2 separate regions of the Homo sapiens genome follow, and region 2 is linked to region 1. Evidence: fine-mapped expression QTL. A gene starts in region 1. The other region holds a variant in brackets. All regions are shown on one strand. Distances are from middle to middle.

The links. PIP is the estimated chance that this variant, and not a neighbour inherited with it, causes the effect. A credible set is the group of variants that fine-mapping cannot tell apart.
Region 2: its variant is the best candidate, but not a certain one, in a credible set for the expression of TMEM135 in prefrontal cortex (GTEx, PIP 0.53).

Annotation. Positions count from the first base shown.
Region 1 is chr11:87,032,587-87,044,275 of GRCh38, reverse strand. TMEM135 (transmembrane protein 135) reads right to left here and starts at 6,342. Exons shown (of 15, transcript NM_022918.4): 1 at 6,090-6,342. The coding sequence starts at 6,230. It overlaps LOC105369422 (a long non-coding RNA gene), which reads left to right and starts at 6,481. Exons shown (of 5, transcript XR_007062827.1): 1 at 6,481-6,652. RefSeq lists a silencer at 6,321-6,710 and an enhancer at 6,367-6,867.
Region 2 is chr11:87,320,941-87,332,629 of GRCh38, reverse strand. It overlaps TMEM135 (transmembrane protein 135), which reads right to left. Exons shown (of 15, transcript NM_022918.4): 15 at 3,806-11,429. The coding sequence ends at 11,297. It also overlaps the pseudogene LOC100420680 and the pseudogene PSMA2P1. Among named protein-coding and RNA genes, the nearest start is that of TMEM135, 290 kb to the right of the region's middle. The variant T/G (reference allele first, on the strand shown) is at 6,334.

The sequences.
Region 1 (11,689 bases):
ATCAGTGGTTTTCAAGCCTTTAGCAACCAATGAGACTGTCCATAAACCGTTTTTTATTCCTAGAAATTTCAACTCTGGCTTAAATGTTTATTCAGAGCCTAGAAGTGATTAACTGATCCTTAGTAATCTAACAGATTTGTTGGATTACATGGTTCAAAGGGAGTAAATATTGAGTAAACATGTTCATCCACTGAAGAGTCTAAACATCTAAAGGTCAGTGAAAAAACAGGTTTTAAAATCATTCTTTCCCAAAAATGCAAAAGATTCTACTTTGGACTCAGCTAAAGGTAAATGCCAGTACCTTAATCTAGAGGTCCTAAAGAAAACCAACTAGGAAAAGAAAGGTCTTAGTGTTAGAACCATCTGAGGTTAGTGAACAAGTTTTCCTTCTTAGGGAAGGTACCTAAGAATCTCAACAGCATAGAATCCATACTCCCAAGTGGGCAACTGTATATTCTAAATTTGCCACAAAAACAAGGGCCTTATGCTTTCCTTAATCTTAGTGGTAGTCTAGGGGTTAAACAGTTTTTTTTGTTTGTTTGTTTGTTTGTTTTGAGACAGAGTCTCGCTCTGTTGCCAGGCTGGAGTGCAGTGGCGTGATCTCTGCTCAGTACAACCTCCGCCTCCCAGGTTCAAGTGATTCTCCTGCTTCAGCCTCCCGAGCAGCTGGGACTACAGGTGCACACCACCATGCCCAGCTAATTTTTGTATTTTTAGTAGAGACGGGTTTCACCATGTTGGCCAGGATGGTCTCCATTTCCTGACCTCGTGATCCACCCGCCTCAGCCTCCCAAAGTGCTGGGATTACAGGCGTCAGACACCGCACCCAGCCAACAGTTTAATAACTGTTTCATATGTATGTGTGCAGCAAGGGGTACCACCTATTTAGAATATGTAGCAATAACTAACATTCAAGAAATACAATATAAAATTCTAAAATATATTTTTGGTACATGCATACATTGTTACCGTATATCACAAAATATGTAAGAATCTGCTTTTTAAAAAAACTACAGAAATAGGCTGGGCCCAGTGGCTCACTCCTGTAATTCCAGCACTTTGGGAGGCTGAGGCAGGTGGATCACCTGAGGTCAGGAGTTCCAAACCAACCTGACCAACATGCAGAAACCCCGTCTCTACTAAAAATACAAAATTAGCCGGGCGTGGTGGTGCATACCTGTAATCCCAGCTACTCGGGAGGCTGAGGCAGCAGAATGGCTTGAACCTGGGAGGCGGAGGTTGTAGTGAGCCGAGATCACACCACTGCACTCCAGCCTGAGCAACAAGAGCGAAACTCTGTCTCAAAAAAAAAAAAACAAAACAAAACTACAGAAATAAATGATGAGTGAGAGCTGATATTCTTTACAAATTGTGAAAACACAAAGATTCACTATTATAATAAAAGGAATCATACATCTACATTTTGAAATAGTTTAAACAGTAGAAGATGAATACCGACTAAACAGTTGTAGATACTAAGATTAAAAGAAGCATGAGGGCAAATGTATAGAACAAGAAAGTAAATATGACATGAAGAAATCAGTTTAGTACAACACACATGATAATGTTTCCAATGAAAAGCAGATACATAAGACCCATTTTATAGGCTCCAGAAAACACTCTTGATAAAAATCTTCCTTCATGTTGGGGCTCAGAATACAATACCACAAAATGAAGGCCTCAGAAGCAGCCTTAGAAGCAGAAGTTTTTTTCTGACCTTCTCCTGCTCTCCTGTCTCCTAGTCCCACTCTCCCCTGAGCTAGCCTTAGAAACTAGAATTTTCCCCAAGGCAGGTCATAAAAACCAAAACCTATTTTCCCCAAAGCCAGCCATAAAACTTAAAATATCATACTAACTTTCCCTTTGCCTTTCCATGTAAAAACTGGCCATAAAGAAACTATCTGACCTACCTTGTTTGACTGTAGGTCATAAGCCCCCATTCCAGAGAGGGTCCTGCCCCATACTCAAAAGAAAAGAAGGAATGCTCAGAGAGGCCAAGAAGAATTTAGACAGAGAGGCCAAGAAGAATCTAGACAGACAGACCTTGCTTCCCCAATCAGTCTATTACCATTATTGTCCAATCACATTTCTACATAGCTGTCTATACTTCGTTGAACCTAAGCATAAAAACAGATAATTTCCCCTGTATTTTTGGGTCTTCATTCTGAAGGCTCCCGTGTATACACGTTAAATAAATTGGTACATGCCCTTTCTCCTATTAATCCATCGGCCTCCTGTCAGTGATTTTTGGTGAACCTTCAGAGGGCCAAGGGGAAAGCTCTCCATTGGTCCCTACACCAGCTTGTCTTTAGAACTTCTCCATTTCTAGCAATAATGGCAACTGCAACAATCTGACTTGACAACCTAGAAGTATAAAGAAGTCCTCATACTGCCCCAATATCCTTGGTCTCTAAGTCCTGTTCATTCTGCCACAAAATGCCTCTAGAACTGCCCTTTCATCTTCTCTGGCAGACCTGCCAAATATGTCTTCACTCCCGCACTATTCATATGCTTATTCATTCATACCTTCACTCATTTAGACATATATTAAGCATTTAATGAGGTACTACACTAGTCTAAATACAAACCACTGTTTTAACAGAAGATAGAGACATATATCATAATTAATGCACTATTACCCTATTTAACTCCTCACAACAGACCTTAAAAAATGGGTACAATCATCTTCTGCAAAGCAAGGGGACTAAGGCTCCATGCGATTCGGTAATTTTTCTAAAGATCATATTGATAGTAAATTGCAGGGTGAGATTCCACAGGAGTTCTGACTCTTTCCACTACTTAGTGAAATTGCTGCATCAATTTCTCAAAAATCTTTTCTATCCGGTCTTCCCAGTGCTACCAGATTTAGCATCTGAAAGCATCATTTTGTACTTGTAACCCCTTTGTTCAAAAAGAAACCTCAATAGCATGCACACAGAACAGTGGCTCCTTTAGCCTGTCCTTCAGTCTTTCAGTCAAAAAAAAAAAAAAATGAGAACCGAATCCTGTCTTTTTCCTTACTAGCTCTAAATCTTGTGAATCACTTAATGTCTCTAACCTTCAGGTATCTTACCTATAAAATGGGGATAATAAGCTGGGGTTGTGTAAGGGTTAAAAAAGATAAAATACGTAAAGGACTAAGCACATAATAAATGTAAGTTGTTATCGCTCACAACTCCTGTACGCAAACGTTCTGTTATAGACAATGTATTCATTGCTTCTCTTACAAAACCACTTAGTTTTCTGCCTCAGTTTACATTATCCTCCCTCCTCTCCATTAAGAATAGGTATGCTATAAATGTCTACTGCATGAATAAATGTCTGTATAGCCTTACCCTCAAGGCACAAGTCAAGGGCCACCTACTTCAAGAGGCCTTCCCTACCCACCTTCCATGAACTTCACTCTTAAGTGCCACCGGAGAAGGGAGGAAGAAAAATATGCGTAACTATTCAAAACCTATGATAAACTAGAAAATATGTGATACATCATCAATGCATGATTTCATTTAATTCTCAAAAAGAAAGATAAAGTAACATATACAAAGTCAAATAGCTGGTAAATGATAGAGCTGAGATTCAAATCCTGATACCCTGATCCCTTTTTTTTTTTTTTGTGATGGAGTTTTGCTCTTGTTTCCCAGGCTGGAGTGCAATGGCATGATCTCAGCTCACTACAACCTCCACCTCCCAGGTTCAAGTGATTTTCCTGCCTCAGCCTCCCGAGTAGCTGGGATTACAGGCATGTGCCACCACGCCCAGCTAATTTTATATTTTTCGTAGAGATGGGGTTTCACCATGTTGGTCAAGCTGGCTGGTCTCGAACGCCTGACCTCAGGTGATCCACACACCTCGGCCTCCCAAAGAGCTGGGATTATGGGCGTGAGCCACTGCACCTGGCCTGATCACTTTTTAAAGTCCAATTTCTTTCCACCACACCACCTTGCATCTTAGTACATGGGGGTATACATTTAATCAACTATCCAACACTCACAAAGAGAACAGCTATATGCTCCAAGTAGCCCCACCCATACCTACATGGATAACTGAAACAAAACTGTCATGAAATAATGCTTACCCTTAGTATGCGCAATATGTCCTAACATTTTTTATTTTCTTCCATTTCACTAATATAAAATAAAATGCTATTCAGTTCCCACTAATTTTATTTCACAACTACCGAGGAGTAGCAACCAAAATTTTCAAATACACAGATGTAAGGGTACAAGGCCACATGAGATGGAAAATTTATCCTCAATAAGTACTTAATCTTGTTGGAGATATAGTAGTAAAACACAACTCTTTTCCTGAACACCCCCAACCTACCTTGTTGGAGTAGGAGAACCTATGTTTCTATTGCTACCCTGAATGTCCCTATCATAGACTATAATCCATAAATTGTCTAGGCTATTGATATAACAAGTATCAGGCATTCAACAAATATTTGTTAAGTGAATGAATTAATGAATGAAAAGTGCTATGGATTTTCAGAGGGAGAAGTAGATAGCATAAACTCTCTTTCCACCTATATCATAATCCTCTCACAGCAGGAACAATCTTTTCTATAGTTGTATATCAAGAGCTCAATAATGTTTGTAGATGTTTTATTTTTTACAAATCTGAGCCTTATGCAGTGAGCCGTGATTGCGCCACTGCACTCCAGCCAGAATGGCAATACAACAAGGCCCTGTATCCAAAAATAAAAAGAAAAATTCTGAGACATAGACTGGCCACAGTGAATGTGGAAAAGCAGATAAACATGAATCTTTGCCAAAGAAAATCAAGGAAAAAATTTCCAGCTCCAATAACAATTACTGGCCTCTACTCTAGATCTTTATTATTCAAAGTGCAGCCCCCACCATCAGCATTACCACGAGTTTGTTAGGAAAGCAGAGGTTCAGGCCCCACCAGGACCTAATGAATTAGAACCCCCATTTTAACATAATCCTCAGAGGATTCCTAACATACATGAAAATGTGAGAAGCATCAGTCTATACAATAAAAATGAAATGGGTGCCTGCAACCTCAAACAAAGTCATCACCTTCTCCTGTGTTATCTCTGAAATACATAATCAGACTTTTCAAGAAGTACTACAGATACAGCCATGACACACTTTCAGGAACATTAGGGTATAAATCTAAATTACTTCAATGAGAAATAATAATTGATCATCTGCTGAATATTGAAACTTTTAGAAGACATACAAAAAATATGATCTGTCTTCTTAGGACACAAACTGTAAGGCAAGAAAATGAGACAATGCACTTCAATGGCCAAAGTAATAATAAATCTTTAATATCAAGGATAAGATTATTGAAAAAAAGATTTTGCGGAGAACATTTAAGAGCATCTTTAATAGTCCTCAGTGTTACATATACATACTGCCAAATATTCCCTATTAATTGCCCTGTATGTAAAGTTGTGTAACAGAAGGTCCTAGGTGACACAAAGTCAGATGTCCTAACCAAGTTCACTGACTGAAAGACTGGCATCACCCTTTAAATCACCACACACAATCTCAACCCAGGAGTCTGTTCTGTGAACTTGCAAAAACACTTGCAAAACCCCCAAATCACAATCCTGTCATCTCAAAACTGAGTCAAGATCTGAGGCCACAGGGACTTAGGGCCAAATATGCCTTCTTCATTAAAAAAAAAAAAAAAAAAAAGCAAAATAAAACAGGGGAAACTAGATGAGGAAAGATTGCAGGTCCTTCTCATAGCCTCGCTGACCTACAAATACCTCTCCATCACAAGGCAGGCCAGAGGAAAATAAGGCTGGTCTTTGAATTAACGTTTTTAAGTGTCCTAAACTTAATTCTAAAAGTTGGGAGCCATCCTCTTCCTAGCAACAGGCATTCAGATGACAGCTCAATCTCTAATTCCCCTCCTCCTTCTCCCTTGCAGGAATTGGTATATCCTTCCCTTGCGACCTCCCCCTTCCCCCTACCGACCCCCCAAAACACTCCGACCCCTCCAAAAGAGAGCCCGACACAAGGCAAGTCCCCCAGAGCCCCTCGGGAGCACCAACTGCAGCCCCCGGCCCATCTTCCAGACTAAACTCGCCCTGCGGGACGGGTGACGGGTCTCACCAAGTACAGAGGAGCATAGATCTTCAGGGACTCCTCCAGGGCGCCCCCGGTGATCTGCAGGAAGGAGACCCGGCAGGAAGGGTGCCAAGTGTGGCCGATCTCATAGCAGTTATGAGGGATGGACTTGCTGAGGGCCGCCATGACGAGGAACAGCGCGGAGAAGACAGGAGGGGGAGAGCCTGAGCCCTGCAGGGAGGGGCGCGAGAGCCCAGCCGCCAGCCTCTCGCCCGGCCAGCACTCGGAGGTGCGGAATGGAGGGGAAAGGTCACGAGAGCGGGGTTACTCTGGGCCAAAGTCCTCGGATGTTGAGCGCTCGGCGTATCGCAGCTCAAGGGGGCGGGACGCGCACCGGGGAGGCGGGGAGAGGCGGCGCGTGCGCGCTCCCTCAAGAGGGCATCCGCTGGGGCGCGTTCCCGCGCGGCGGCGCGGCTGGGTGAGCGGAGGCAGAGAGGATCTTCGCACCCAGAGCCGAGGCTGTACGCGAGGGAGCGCAGCTCGGGGACGAGCCGCCTCCCCACCCCCGCGACGCCGTGCCCGGCTCCGGGGCGCAAGCGCTATGGCAGGTGCGCAGTAGGGGGTGGCTTGGGTCAAATTGTACTTCAGCTTCCAACTGCAAGCCAAGTAGAGCGGAGGGTAGTGGAAGAAAGGGATTAAATGTCTTTGTTGGGAGCTGGTGGAGGAAGAGGGTTGCCAGAGGAATGCCTGGGACAAACGTCCTCCCCAGCACCGGGAGCTTGCCTTCCCGAGAGTCCCAGGTAATAAACAGCTAGGGCTGCCTGCTAGTTGCAACTAACTACCCCCAAGTGCTGGGCTTTCCAAGCTCTGTGATACCTGCGAAGGCTTGAAAAGTCTCAGCTATGTTCATACCCCGACCGTGTGTGGGGAAGGGCAATAGGTCATCCTGTCCAAACCTTAGGCCACGGAGCAATCCTGTCTACAGCATCTTTGATAGGTGCTTATCAACCAAACAGCACACACAGTAGAGGCGGCAGTCGTGTGTTAGAACTCAGACCTGGCTAGGGAACTTGGCCAACAATTAGCAAGACAAGGGTCCTGTGTTGCTTGAGTCATATAACCCCTCTGTCAATCTCCTCACATGTAACAAACCTGCCAGTTTCTTTGGATTTCTAAATTCCATAGTCTCTTAAAGCAGAAACGAACTACCTTTAGAAGAATTCCATTCGAATCTTCTAGTCTTCATTCATTCATCTACAAATATTTACTGAGTCATTACTATTTACCAGGCACTGTGCTAAGGAAACAAACAGAAACAAGAGAGACAAGATTTTTATTTTCACGAAGCTAGTATTCTAGAGGGAGAAGACAGAAAATAACAAAGAAAACTGAACAAGATAATATCAGATAGGTGTAGTTGTTTGAAGAAAATAAAAGAGAAATACTCAGATGAAAAGTCCAAAACAACAATGGCAAAAAGATAAAAGTATCTTTCTCTCAGGTAAAGGTAGGCAGTCCTAGAATAAAATGGTGGCTCCATAACGATTAGGGATCCCAGCCTCTTTGTGACAGTTTGCTATGCCATCTGCTACCTGTGATTTCCACCCTAACTTAGAAAATAACATGACATCAACATGCTAGCCAGGAAGACCAGCAAAAGGGGAAGAGAGGCCGGGCGCGGTGGCTCACACCTGTAATCCTAGTACTTTGAGAGGCTGAGGCGGGTGGATCACTTGAGGTCAGGAGTTTGAGACCAGCCTGGCCAACATGGTGAAACCCTGTCTCTACTAAAAATACAAAAATTTGCCAGAAATGGTGACACGCTCCTGTAATCGTAGCTACTCAGGGACTGAGGCAGGAGAATCGCTTGAACTCAGGAGGCAGAGGTTGCAGTGGGCCAAGATCACACCACTGTTGCCTTGGCAACAGAGAGAGACTCTATCTCAAAAAAAAAAAAAAAAAAAAAACGGGGGGGCGGGGGCGGGGAGAAAAGGGCATACTTCCTGTTTTTAAAAAAACTTCCCAGAAGATCCATACAAACTACTACAACTTACGTTCCTTGGACAAAGCTTAATCACATGGCCACACTTCATTGCAAGAGAGGATGGTGAATACAATCTTTTTTAATTAATGGGACAAATGCCCAGCTAACATTTGAGGTTTTATTACTGAGCAAAATGGAAAAAACAGATATTAGAGGCAACTAGCAGTGTCTGCCATAGTTCTATGTCTCTGGCTACCCAAATATCCGGGCACACCATTCTTTCTACAGATAGACATACCTTCCCTTTTCCAAGGGAGACAACCTAAAATTCCATGCAGTTGCTGAATCCTAGCCAAAGTCCAGAATATTCCTCAGGACCAGATGCAGATCTCATGATAAAGTTATCATCCGCCTCAACACATCCAATATACAATGGTAGAATAGGAACAAGATAATCACAATTTTTTTCAAATCTCCAATTCAGAAACTAAGAAGATCAAAAACACAGCATAAACTTATCCAAAAAATTACAGAAATAGCAGTGCAGGCTTATTTTTTTTCAATAATCCATTCCTGAATATCTGTGATCCTTTCACAAGAAAATGCTGAATAGGAACTTAGTTTTAAATGGGAAAAAATAAAATGCATTACATATCAACCAAAAAATTCTTAACAAGTATTTAAAACATAGTATCAAATATTAACAAAAAATGATCATGTTAAGATGTACAATACTATACAAATAACATCTTATTCACCAAACAATTAATACGAGCTGGGCACGGTGGCTGATACCTATAATCCCAACACTTTGGGAGGCTGAGCTTGGTGGATCACCTGAGGTCATAAGTTCAAGACCAGCCTGGCCTATGGTGAAACTCCATCTCTACTAAAAATACAAAAAGTAGCCAGACATGGTGGTGGACACCTGTAATCCCAGCTACTCAGGAGGCTGAGGCAGGAGAATCACTTGAACCTGGGAGGCGGAGGTTGCAGTGAGCCGAGATGGTGCCACTACACTCCAGCCTGGGCAACAGAACAAGACTCCGTCTCAAAAAAAAAAAAATTTTTAATATGATTGTTAACTCTCAGTTGCTTCTGAATGTAATAGCACAATATAGTTTTCATGCCTGATAATAAACAATATGTTTACTATGTGGCCCAGCAATTACACATTAATAAATAAGGAAATTTTAAAATTACAATTAAAACCAGGTGGTTTCTTTTAGTTAACTGTTTTTTGTTTGTTTTGAGACATGGTCTCACTCTGCTACCCAGGCTGAAGTGCAGTGGCGCAATCACAGCTCACAGCAGCCTATATCCCCTGGGCTCAGGAGATCCTCCTGCCTCAGCCTCCTGAGTAGCTGGGACCACAGGTACGCCACCACACCTGGCTAATGTTTTTAAATTATTTGTAGGGTCTCCCTGTGTTACCCAGACTGCTCTTGAACTCCTGGGCTCAAGCTGTCCACCCACCTCAGCCTCCCAAACTGCTGGGATTACAGGTGTGCACCAACACACCTGGTCCTAATTAACTGTTAAATGGAGACTTGAAGCATAAAGAAATTTGAGAAAAAGGGGATGGTGCCAAAGGGGACAATGCTGATGAGCTGGGTGGCAAAGGGGTGATTTCAGGGAAACTCCCAAGTTCAAAAGAAAGGATACTCTATCTTTTCTAGTGCTGCTATGGAGATTCCAAAACAGGAAGGCATTGATAAATCCTCAGGGGAGATGATCTGTGCTTTAGGATGCAAAAAAAATTGCAAAATGGAGCAGTATGCAGTTAAACCAGTAGCTTACATTTGTAAATTTCTTTATATGGTATTATAAGATATAGCAGGCTGTTTTTTAAAAGAAAGCCTTCTCTTCATGCCACCATTAAGTTTAAAGATAATGTTAAACATTGCATCTGCATGGGTCATTTATTCTTTTAGGTTGGCTATGACAGTGGCTTGATTGGATACTTTCTGGGGGCTTCATTGTTTCTTCTTTTTCATTAAAAAAACGCAGGGAGGGCTTTAGGGTTCATCAACAAGGTGAAGCAAAGAGTTTCTCCAAAGAAGGTGCACAGTGGATGAAGAAAACTAATCTGGCAATTTATGATGGAATTCAAAGGCTTTGAAGAAACGCCAAGATGAAAATTGTTGCCCCTTTCTTTGTGATGGAAGAATGAAAAAAAAAAAAAAAACACAAAGTTGTTGCTCTTGTAGGATTCTAGTTTTGAAGATGTCAACGAAAAAGAATGGAAGAGCTCTTAAGATCTAATGCAGAGGATTTAACGACACTAATCTAGTTTAGATCTACATGCAGTCATTGTAGAAATAATTATCAGGCACAAGTACAATGGCAAAGTACGGCAAACTCGAAGTATGACACTGTAGTAGCTCTTGATTCCAGCAACAGTCAGTAACCAAGCTTTTCACAAAGCTACATATGATTCTGATTTTCTTTTCTTTTCTTTTCTTTTGAGACGGAGTCTTGCTGTGTCACCCAAGCTGGAGTGCAATGGGACGATCTCGGCTCACTGCAAACTCCGCCTCCTGGGCTCAAGTGATTCTTCTGCCTCACTAGCTGAGATTAGTGGCACCCACCACCACACCCGGCTAATTTCTGTATTTTTAGTAGAGACGGGGTTTCACCATGTAGTCCAGGCTGGTCCCAAACTCCCTGACCTTAGGTAATTCACCTGCCTCAGCCTCCCAAAGTGCTGGGATTACAGACATGAGCCACCATGCCCAGCCATAATTCTAATTTTCTACTAATTTTTGTTGCAACATAACTTCAGGTTTTTCCTTACGTCATTTTATTTAAAATATTGAGTTTCTAATATGTAAATATAAATTTTAATATTCAAATCTGGAGTATTAAAAGATACATATGCCCTTTCAGTCCAAGTAGGCAGTGTGTCTGCCAATACAATTCTCTTTAAGATTTTGGGGACTTCATATATATCAAATTATAATCCACTCCAATAGAAAAAAAAGCCACACTCACAAACCTCTGAGACAAACACTTTCCGTCTTGGGCTGAGAGTAAGAAAGCTGATGGAAAACACCCTTATACACTTAGAAGTGCTTTTGTCTAGCTGAAATGGTCTAGGTAAAATGGCTTTAAATCTTTGTACAGTCTTTACAAAAAATCTAAATAGCTGCACCCTGGATTGTACCTTCCCCTTAAGGCAATGCCTTAGTTGTTTCACCATCTGGAGAGGCTGGAAGTGAAAAGCAGTTTTATTTTTGAACCCAAAGTTCCCAGACTGTGTATATTTTCTCTAAATTTTGCTTAAAAATGAAATTGTTCCTTTTATATCTCACCTCTCTACATCTTATTCCACATAGGTTTTTTTTTTTTAATCAGTTGGCATTTTCAACAGTCTGTCTGGAAATTTCCTTAACTGCAAATACACCAGTTTGTTAGATATATTTTCTATTTTCTGCATTTCAGCATGCAACAGTGTTGCCAAACTTTCTGCCACTGCATAACAGGGATCCCTTTTTCTCCAGCCTTTCCTAACAGTTTCCTCCCTTCAAGCCTTCAAAGATTGTAGAAAAAACTCTCAAGTGGCCTTACAAAATATTCAGGTACATACACTGTCTAGAATTCTCAGCATCTATATTAGTTTGATGTTACCAGTACTTGGAAGCTACAGCTAAGGACACCA
Region 2 (11,689 bases), 290 kb before region 1:
ACTAAATTGTTTTTAATGATTCCACTATATTTCCTTTGTTGGCTTATTAACTATAATTTTATTTGTGGGGGGAAAGAAATTAGGGTTTATATTATGCATCTGTAACTTAATGCAGTTTTCCTTCATGTAATGTACTTACTTCATAGCACATAAGAAACTTACAATGGTATAATTTCATTTGCTGAATCCTGAACTTTGTGTGATTGTTTTATTTTGACATGTGTTATAAACTCCACTATAAACTGTTATTATTTCTGCTTTAGGAAATCAATTATCTTTTAAATACATTCAAAAATAACAAAAAAAGTTTATTAATACATTGTATTTTCATCTCTTACAAGTTATTTTCTGGTCCCTTTTTTATCTTCTATATCTCTACTTAATATGTTAAACTGGCCTCTACTTTCTTGACCATACGGCATATAGCTGTGATGTTCTTTTGCACTTATTCTATTATTTGCGTCATTTCTGATTCTATTTCTATCACTTTTTTCTTCCTCTTGCAGGATGTATTTTCTGGGTGTTTTTTTGTTTTGTTTTGTTTTTGTTTTTGTTTTTGTTTTTTGGTACTTCGTTCTAGGAGACAGTTATTTGGAAACTGAGGCTTTTTTTTTTTTTTTTTTTTGAGACGGGGTTTCGCTCTGTTGCCCAGGCTGGAGTGCAATGGCACGATCTCGGCTCACTGCAAGCTCCACCTCCCAGGTTCACGCCATTCTCCTGCCTCAGCCTCAGCCTCCTGAGTAGCTGGGACTACAGGCACCTAGCCACCACGCCCGGCCAATTTTTTGTATTTTTAGTAGAGACGGGGTTTCACCATGTTAGCCAGGATGGTCTCCATCTCCTGCCTCAGCCTCCCAAAGTGCTGGGATTACAGGCATGAGCCACTGTGCCCAGCCGGAAACTGAGGCTTTTAAGCTTCAATAGGTAAGATGAGACCAGCCTTTAGTCTAGGGTTAATTTTGCTCCCCTATGAGGCTCTATTTTCCTGACTACTCTATCCAGCACCCTTTGTAAAATGAATTGTGCTACTCTGGCTAGCAGGAACACAAACTACTCGCTTCCTTGCGTGAACTCCAATGATTGCTCCCTCTGCTCCTTTCGGGTGGTTCTTTCTCCAACCTTGGTAATTTTCCCATGCATGCCGAAGTACTCAGCTTATGTCTCAAGGGGGACGCTCTTGAGATCTGCAAGCCTTTTTTCTGTGCAGCTCTCTCCTCTTTTGTACTCTGCCTTATGAACTTCATCGACTTTAGCCTCTCTGGACTCCCACCTCTGTTCCCTCAACTCAGAGAAATCTCTGGTTTCTCTCTTAGTTCTCTTTCCTTAGGCTGCAATCTGGAATCTCTCTCCAGATATCAGCTAGGGGAATCATAAAACACAACTCATTTGTGTTCCTTCTTTCAGGATTGTTGCCATTCACTGCTTCATGACTAGTGTCTGAAAACTATTGTTTTATTACATACAGTATTGTCAGGTCTTTTAGTTGTTTCAGATGAAAAGGTAAATCTTGTTCCTATTCTTTTAGTTAAGCTGAAAGTAAACATCAACCACTTTGGGAGGCAAGGGTTTTTATTTCAGTGATAAATGATTAATTTTAAGGGGAGTGAGTAACGATGCTACTTAAAATTTCAACTCTTGGAGATCTGAGTTCAAATTCCAGTATTGTTACCTTGGGTAAATTACCACACTTTTTGATTCCCAGTTCCCTAGCTGATAAAACAGAACTAATAATACCTACCTGATAAGGTGTGAGGATTGAGTGAGATATAAACAATTTACCACATATCAGAGGCACACCTCTTAAATTTTAGTGTCCTTCTCTTTCCTCTAAAAATGAGTATCAGAAGCTATTTGTTAGAGCCCTACCTATATTGATAAGAGTGATTCCAATCCTTTTCCTCTCTCAAATATCTAAGGCCCTATCTGTTATAGAAAAACAACAGCAACAATTTTTTTTTACCTTAATATGCTATTCAAAGGCCAGACATAAAATATAATTCTGGGAAAACTGCCTGTGATTTTTCACTCTGTGAAACTAAGTGGGAAGGGGGAGCCTCGTGTCCTGTCCTGTCTACTTCTGGTTTGGATTTTGAAGTTTTTAAAGTGGGGAACAATCCAGAATTCCAGCTCTGTCAGGAAAAAAAACAAACAAATGAAACAGATGACAAATCATTTGTCTAGGACCTGAAGCCAAACTGGCTTCAATAGCTGCTGGGATAGTAGTAGGAGCCAATTTCCTGCAGTATTTACAAAATCATTTGTAAGAATAATATTTTCCAGACTTTTATAGGAAAAATTAAGTGTGAATTTTTGGTCTGCAGACTCCATAAAGTTAGCAGGCATCCAACAAGCAGCTGCTGAGAAAACCACCTCCCATCCTAACTCCACTCCCTTTATAAAGGCCTGACATACACTCAGTTGGAGGATAAGCTGTAGTCTTTGCTCTTCAAATATATACCACAACCTAAAAGAGCAACAGATGAATACATAGCTAATCAGAATCAAATGAAATGTGCTTTATTGGGGGTATTAGCAAACTGCTGCACTAAGACAGAGAGAAAAGGGTTATCTGGATAAAGATGGAGGAACTTAGTTACAGCTTCTCGCTGACTACATTGGGCCTGTCTAGTAAATTTGTCCATATTGAATAGGCTTTGGCTGCTCTAGCTGGAAAAGCCCTTTCAGTGGGAGTTAAAGCAGCAAATGGCATGGTATTAGCAACTGAGAAGAGCAGAAATCTATTCTATATGATGAGCAAAGTGTACACAGAGTGGAACCAATTACCAAACATACAGGTTTGGTGTATAGTGGCATGGGTGCAGATTACAGAATGCTTGTGCATGGAGTTCAAAAGCTAGCTGAGCAATACTATCCTGTTTACCAAGAACCCATTCCCACAACTCAGCTGGTAGAGAAATTAGCTTCTGAGATGCAAGAATACACCGAGTCTGGTGGTATTTGTCCATTTGGAGTCTTTCTACCTATTTGTGGTTGTGGGGGACAGACATATTTACTCAGGCAGATCCATCTGGAGCTTTCTTTGAATGCCACAGCAATGGGAAAGAACTGTGTGACTGGGAAAACTTTCTTTGAGAGAAGAAACAATGAAGATCTGAAATTTAAAATGCCATTCATATAGCCATCTTAACCCTAAAGGAAAGTGTTAAAAGGCAAATGACAGAAGATAACATAGAAGTTGGAATCTGCAATGAAGCTGTATTTAGGAAGTTTAGTTCATCCAACTGAAGTTAAGGATTACTTGGCTGCCACGGCATAATAATGAAGTGACTGAAAAATCCAGAATTTCAGATATTCTATCTACTTAAACATGTTTAAAGGATGTTTTGTTTTGCAGGCTCTTTTTAGATTTATTTCTATATGGTTAAAAACCAATGTTTTAAAAATGACACTTATAAGGCCAGGCACAGTGGCCCACGCCTATAACTGGAGAACTTTGGGAGGCTTAGGAGGGAGGATTGCTTGAGTGTAAGAGTTCAAGACCAGCCTAGGCAACACAGTGAGACCCCTGTCTCTACAAAAAAACAAAAACGAAAACAAAATTAATCAGGCATGGTGGCATGTGCCTGTAGTCCCAGCTACCAGGGAAGCTGAGGTGGAAGGATTACTTAAGCCTGGGACGTCAAGGCCACAGTGAGCCATGATCATGCCATTGCACTCCAACCTGGGTGACAGAGTGAGACCCTGTCTCATTTATACACTGCTGGTGAGAATGTAAATTAGTACAACCTCTACAGACAACAGTATGGAGGTGTCTTAAAGAACTAAAAGGAGATCTACCATAAAAGACACTCGTATATATATTTTTATTGTTAACACAGTTCACAATTGCAAAGATACAGAATCAACCAAAGTGCCCATAGACCAATGAGTGGATAAAGAAAATGTGGTATATATGCACCATGGAATACTACTCAGCCATAAAAAATAAAAGATGAAATAATGTCTTTTGCAGCATCTTGGATGGAGCTGGAGGCCATTATTCTAAGTAAAGTAACTCCGGAATAGAAAATCAAATTCTGTATGTTCTCAACTGTAAGTGGGAGCTAAGCTATGGATACACAAGGGTATACAGAGTGATATAATGGACTATGGAGACTCAGAAGGGGAAGGAATAAAAAGCTATATATTGGGTACAATGCACACTATTCTGGTGACAGGTGCACTAAAATTTCAGACTTCACCAATATACAATTCATCCATGCAACCAAAAACCACTTGTACCCCAAAAGCTACTGAAATAAAAATAAGCAAATTCATTCCTTAATTAAATGACACATAAAACATAATCAACTAAGATTTTTTAAAGATGAGCAAAACCTTCAAAGACGAGATTGACAGTATTTTAGCATACACAGAAGAGTGGAGAAAAAGAGAATTCTAAATCAAGAGAGAGAAGGATATAATGGGAAATGAAACTGAGATCTGATCTATACAGAATTGGAATATGTCCATTAGAAATGTTTTCAGCTGAAAGTAACAGAATTCTTGGGTAATAGAGCCATAAAGCCTGTGATGGTTAATTTTAGGCATCAACTTGACTGGATTAAGGAATATCTAGAGAACTGGTAAGGCATTATTTTGGGGTGTGTCTGTGAGGGTGTTTCCAGAGGAGATTGGCATGTGAGTTAGCGTGGACTAGGCAGAGAAGATCTGCCCTCAATATGGGCAGGCACCTCCAATCCACTGGAGGCCTGGGTAGAATAAAAACAGAAGAAAGGAGAATTGGCTTCTCTCTCTCCCCTGCAGCAGGGATACACTCTTCTCCAACTGCCCATGGACATTAGGACCCCAGATCCTCTAACCTTGGGACTCCAGGACTTAAAACTATCACTCCCCCATCCCACCCCCAGGTTCTCAGACTTGAAAATTCAGCCTTGGACTGAGAATTACACCATCAGTTTCCCTGGTTCCAAGGCTTTTGGACTTGTACTGAGCCAGACCACCAGCATCCCAAGGTCTCCAGGTTATGAATGGCCTGTGGTGGGGTTTCTCAGCCTCCACAATCACATGAGCCAACTCCCTTAATCCCCTCTCATATCTCTCTCTGTGTCTCTCTCTATCCCTCTCATATCTCTCTCTATGTATCTCTCTATCCCTATTGTTCTGCCTCTCTGGGAAACCCTGACTGATACAGAACTTTAAGAAATAGAGGTTTATTTTCTCAAAATGCTCAAATGCAGATGGTTAATGGCACCATTCAGTGGCTCACAGAAGCAGGTTCTTTCTATTTTTCTGACCTGGCATCTTTAATATGCTGGTTTTTCATGTTTGTACTTTTCATTTCATGTCTGCAAGATTGCTGCCACAGATTCAGACCCTACTGACTAATACTAATACCTTGAACAAGAGAAAAAGAGGTAAAAAGAACTTTCCTTTAAGCAGAGAGGGAAGATTTTTCCCAAGTGTTTCCCAGATTTTCCATTACATTTTATTGGCCAAAACAGGGTCACATGAACACCTCCGAGTAAAGGCTGGTTGGAAAAGTATCTGGACAAGAAGAAAGGAAAGACATGAAAGGCCTAGAACAATTATGATTCATCCCTGGGGCTAGGCATGTAACTGTCTTAAACAACATCAGTGTTCCCTCAGCAAGGAAAAACTGCCACTAGTTGAGCAATTAACAATGACTGCAATCCCATTTTTGAATTTTAATCCAAGTTATAGGAAGCGTTTTAGTGAAAAAAAAAAAAAAAAAAAGGTCCTCAGATGATTCAATGATGCCTCTAGTTTCATAGATTTATTTATCCTGCCCTTTGGTTCTGAAGAGAGCCTTAGTGCTATCCCTGAGCAGTGACAGGCTATCAAAAACTGCCGACTCAGATTCAGATGCAACTGAATTTCTTCCTGAAGCTTTGCAGATATTATTTACCTTCAATTTTCCCTGAAATAAATAGAAAAATAAGGACTCCTGTTTTTTCCCTTGAGAGCTCAAGATGAAGAAATACATAGCAAAGATATGGCAGGAAAGCATGGGCCAGGAAAGGTAAAGAAAAGAATAGGAGAAAAGAGATAAGGCTTAAAATATGTTTATAGTCTCTTCTCTCCCATTCCTTTTGGCATCCAATCCCATAATGACCAACCACAGAATGTACTTCATGCTTTAAACCTTTGGCACTATAGCTTCAGGGTCCTCTTAGGTGACCAAAAATAATCTGAAAAGAAAATTAATTTAAGAGATCGATTAACTACTGGAAAAAGTTTAATAGACACTGAAGAACTAGACTTCGAAAATTAACTGGTCCTAGTTCAGGGATGGAGGAAAGTAGTAATGCAGGGTGACCTCAGCCAACATAGGTCTACAGGTCTACTTTA[T/G]GGAAGCCTGAATCTCTCAAGACAGAAAGGGATGCTGAGTCTAAGCAAGGCAGATAAAGCATGTTGTATGCCTATGGCCTCTATGCCAAGACCAGGGAACATCCTATTATCCACGGTCTGACAAGATTAGAATGTTATGCTCTGCAGAGGCAGCAGGCTGGGGGTGGGGGAGAGTATGGCACAAAACTGAATATTAAAAAAAAAAAAAACTGAACAGGCAAGCTATAGTAGTTTGTGAGCTAAAGAAAGAAGTATAAACTGCTCTTGGCCCTGATGTCCCTGTTGGTGACCAGATGGTATGTGTGTCTGTGGTAATATACTGGGATTTTCAGGTCTGCTGGGACAAAAGATAAAACCCAATACATTATTTCATGTAAAACATATTCGTAGGAGGGACAGATGGAAAAAAAATGGAGAAAGTAAAAGAAAATAGGAAATTCCAGAGTCAAGTGATGTTACGGGGTTTTAAGAAGAGAAGAAATTAATTGTTCTGGATTTAAAGGCTTCACATACAGAGAAACATCTCCTTCCATATCTGTGCAATTATCTTCTACATCATCCTGCCTAAGAAAAACAGAGCATATAAAAAAAAAATCAGTGTCTCTGGAAATGTTTACTCCATTGTTATCACCGTTATGATCACTCCAGAGCCTCTCACTTGAACGGCTGGCTTAAAAGGTTGCAATGAAGTCCAAGGAGACTAGTTAACATAAAGTAACACCAGCAAGCAGAGAATGGACAAGGTGGCAGGGAGAGGGAGCAGCAAGAGAGACAGACAGAGAGAGAGAGAGAGGGAGAGAGAGAGAGCCCACATAAAACAGCAACAGAATAATTTCCAAAAGACCAGATATAAATTCTTTCCTCCAACCAAAAGTCAATCATTTTCTTCTGTGTGTAAAATAGCACACATTCTTATTCACCACAGCTGTAAGCTTAAGGCCATTCACTCACTACTCTGCTGTAGTCCTATGACACTAGCTATATCATGGCCAACTTACTGCCCCACTTCTGTTTCCAGAAGTCACACACACTAGAGTCAGTTTCATTTCTTTGTAGTTACCCTTTTTGCAACTACAGGGCTATTACAAAGTCACCTGAGGCCACTACTTTAAACAGAAACATAGTACTACAAAGCCCTAGAATCTAAGACAGCCCCCCAATCTGAGGGTCATCTCAGTCCTTGACACTCCTTTCTTTGTTAATTCCACAAGAAGAAGAAATTATAGAGCTGGCACCAATGGTGGCTTCAGCACCAATAGTAAAGGGCTGGAGGCAATTGTAAACATCACCTCCACAATGAAGGTAACCTTATTACTCATCACATTCAAAGTGCAGCCCTAAAGAAAATAATCACTTCTTATTCCTTTTCTTGTATTTTTTTCTTGGCCACTCATTTTCAGCTGAGTGAAGTATTCTACTATGTGAAAATGATTACTAGAAGGAGGTGTTAGGAGAGAGAATGTTTATAAGATATCTTAGTAAGAAATGTATACTTTTGCCTTTGGGAAACAAAGGACAACTTTGTTGCTGTGTCAAACTACTTAATACTCATACAAATAAAAATATGGCTAGGTACCGTGGCTCACACCTGGAATCCCAGAGTCCCGGGAGGCCAACCCAAGAGGATCACTTGAGGCCAGGAGTTTAAGACCAGCCTGGACAACATAGCAACACCTTGTTTCTACAAAAAAAAAATAAATAAAATAAATATTAGCCAGGCATGGTGGCACATGCCTGTTGTCCCAGCTATTAGAGACTGAGGGGAAATAATTGCTTGAACCAAGGAATTTGAGGTTTCAATGAGCTATGATTGCACCACTGTACTCCAACCCGGGCAACAGAGCTAGACCTCAACTCAAAAAATAAAAAAATAAATCACACGGAGAATTTAAGGAATCTCTGGGCTAATAATTTCTCTGCTCCAAAAACAACATTTGGGCCATTGCTCCAGTGGTCAGTTCCCTTCAGTCCCACAAGAAGCTTCCTAATTAGCACCAAGGGAGAGGTTGTGACACAGGCAAGTGGACGAAGCTCCCTGAGAGTAAAGGACATTGCTTTTCATTACCTATGAAATGTAGAGCACACAGAAGCTCAGGGATATGATAAAATATAAGCAGGAAACAATTACGTCAGCATTAACAACTAAATGAAATGTTAGCCTAGATACAATCTACAAGGAGACGAACACTCGAGCACAACAAGAAAATACTGTGTGACATTTGCTCAGTTTGGATTCCATCAAAAACATACATGTTCAGTCTAATAAAAGTTCATTATAAAATCTGAGAGCCAAAAAAATATAAAATTCTAAATTAAATAACAACTGACTAAACAACGAATGAAGGCAAAAAATAAACTAGATATCAACTGAGTGATGACTATGCTTATAGTTCAAGAAAAAAGTTACAGAAGCAAAAGCAGAATTTATGGGAAAATAAAACTAAACCAAAGGTGTTACTTCAAAAATGAGTAATAAAATGGATCCTGAAATTATTTGATGAAAAACTGCTGAGAATTGAATAGATTTGAGACAATCTGTTATCTTGCAAACTCAATCTTTACTCGGTTGCTACTAGTTCTAGGATTTTATTAAAACAGAAAATAGCAACGAAATGACCATAATACCACTGCCCCAAATGCACGGTTTTTCAATCTCAATCTATATAAAAATGTCAGAAAGACTAAGGGGACATATTATTGTTTACTGTAATCAGTTCCAGTGAAAACTTACCATTTCTTCAGGATATAAATAAACTAAAAAACATATTTTGGAATGCAGAGATCTATTTTACTTTATTTATAATGCCAAAAAGTTGTCAATCAATACCTGATTAGTTAGAGGTAGAAAGGTAATCATTCTGATTGTCTTCAAAAACACAAAGTTTCTTTGTGTTTGCTCAAACAACTACACTTTGCAGTCTGTCCCAATGAAATCAAACTGGACTTCTCAATCCACCACTGCAAATTGGTTATTCACTCAACCTATACATTCATCATTGTATTCTGCTTCATGATAGCTATTTCATTTTACATTTTACATAAAATTTAAAAAAATGACTGCAATTTATAAAAATGAAAAGGTAAATTGTAGAAATACACCTTTTTGACCAGCAAAATTTTACTAAACAATCTCAGCAAATTTCGTAATTCATCTTTCAATATCACAGTCTTTTAATGTCAATGAAAACAATAATTTATGAATTAAAACATCTTTTTAAACCTGACAGGAAAATATATAAGCACAATTTCTGGATAAAGAAAATGAGGTGCAGTTCTCAGGGCTTTAGTACTTCATTTTAAACAGTAAACACAGTACCAACCATCGTTTTGATTCCAGTGAATAAAAAGTTAAGATTAAATTTATTAATCAACTTTGAAGTCTGAAACCGAAATGATCCTTTAACAGCATTGCCAAATAAACAGGTCAGTTCTACAAAGCTAATCATAATGCCAAATTTTGACCAAATGATAAAGTGGCTCTGTTACCATAGTACCAGAGTCTGTCTTTTTGTTGGGTTTCTGTTTGCCATAACAACCAAGGATTGAATTACATTTAAGCAGAAGTATACAAGGCTTGATGAAATTGAATATGAGGGATTAAGCATTTTTAAAGTATGGGTTATAATTCCTTTTGCAACACAAGTTCTACTGCATAATTTGCACTGGCCTAAAAACTTTTTAGCAACAAAATGTATTTTAAAAATATCATCATCCCTACATGTCACATTAACTGTAGACCACTTCAGCTCTTTATTAACATAGAAAAGTATAACTTTTCCCTGAAAAACTGTAAATAGCGACCATATTTCAATCACAGCTGTCCTGAACTACTCTCATTATCAGCAGGACTTTATGGTGTCACCTCTTTATTCTAACAGTAAAAATGGTGACAATGATATTCAAGAAGAAGGTTGGAGAACCTGAATGGAATTAGTGACAAATGGACTTTTTAAACAACCACTGGATTTTTATAGTGTTTTCAGGTGCAAAACATCCATTACATAAGTTAAACAGCTGAGAGGACACAAACTGCCAACTTGCCAAGACTACTTTGTTCCATAGGATTTTGATCCCTTCTAATACAACAATGGCATATAAACTGAGCTATGAAGGATTATGTCCATATAAATGAAAACAAACATCATAAACCTATAGGAAGTTTAAAAGTTTTGTTTTTAAATATTCAAGTGTAATACTTCTGTGAAAGATTAAAACATACATTTCAACTTTATCGGATGTGTCCATTTCCATTTGCCCCTAACTTGCCATTAGTACATAGGTTCACTGGGCTGCCAAATAGCCCAATTAACTGGTCATGAAGAGAGATGATGTTATTAGTTGAAAAAAAGCATGGATACCACGACATTTATCCAAATGGTATGAGACCCATCTTTGCATCCCTGAAGTAAGAATGGCCACTTCTCCAATTAAATTGCTCTACACGAAAGCAGCACTGTCCGTGGAGAGTTACTTCAAATCTATAACATTCCACTACTACAGATACCAATTCAAAACTTTAAAAAAATATATAGACCAAATCCATGTACCCGTGATCCTTTGTAAATCCTAAAATGTAGAAATAATCCTAATTTTAATCAAGAATTATATTGGAATGAACTAAAGACATCTTTTAAAGTAATTTTAAGTGTACTCTTGTTTGTTATTACACTTCTACGTAGATTATATAATATTGCTTGTGGACATAATTTGATCAATAATATATAATGTCAGTCACTACAGTGATCCAGAATCTTATTCTGGCTATGGAGGAAGCTTAATTATTAAGCAACATCTTCCTAAAAAGCTTCTGAATTTCTGATTCATAAGAAAAACAAAACAAATGAAAAGAGTATCTCTAACTGAAATAACACTGAAGTTCGAGCTTGGGCCCCCTCCTTTGTGTTCAACATAATTAACTCTTCAAGATGAAACATTTAGTCACATTAATAAGTTACAGTCATCTTCAGGAAAACTCTGTGGGCAACTCTGGTGTTACAGTTGTGTATCTTGGATCCAACCTGGGGATGAAATCCTGAAAGTGTTTAGATGCACCAGTACCAAAAACATCAAGGACTTTTCGGTTCATGACAGCAAATCTGTAAAACAAAGAATACAGTAAACAAGTATTAATATAGTTTATAAAATAAAATAATTCATTTTAGTTGACTTATCTTATGTGGGATGGGAAAACAGAAAAGGCTAACGTGGCAAAGGATCTAAATTCAATGGCAGATTCAAGTCACATGAAGGCTCTTCTTCGAGATACACTGTCTCATATTTTATTTAAAGAGATAATCCAGTTAGGATTAAGGATTAAAGAGATAATCCCCAGATCTGAAACCGCAGAGATTACAAC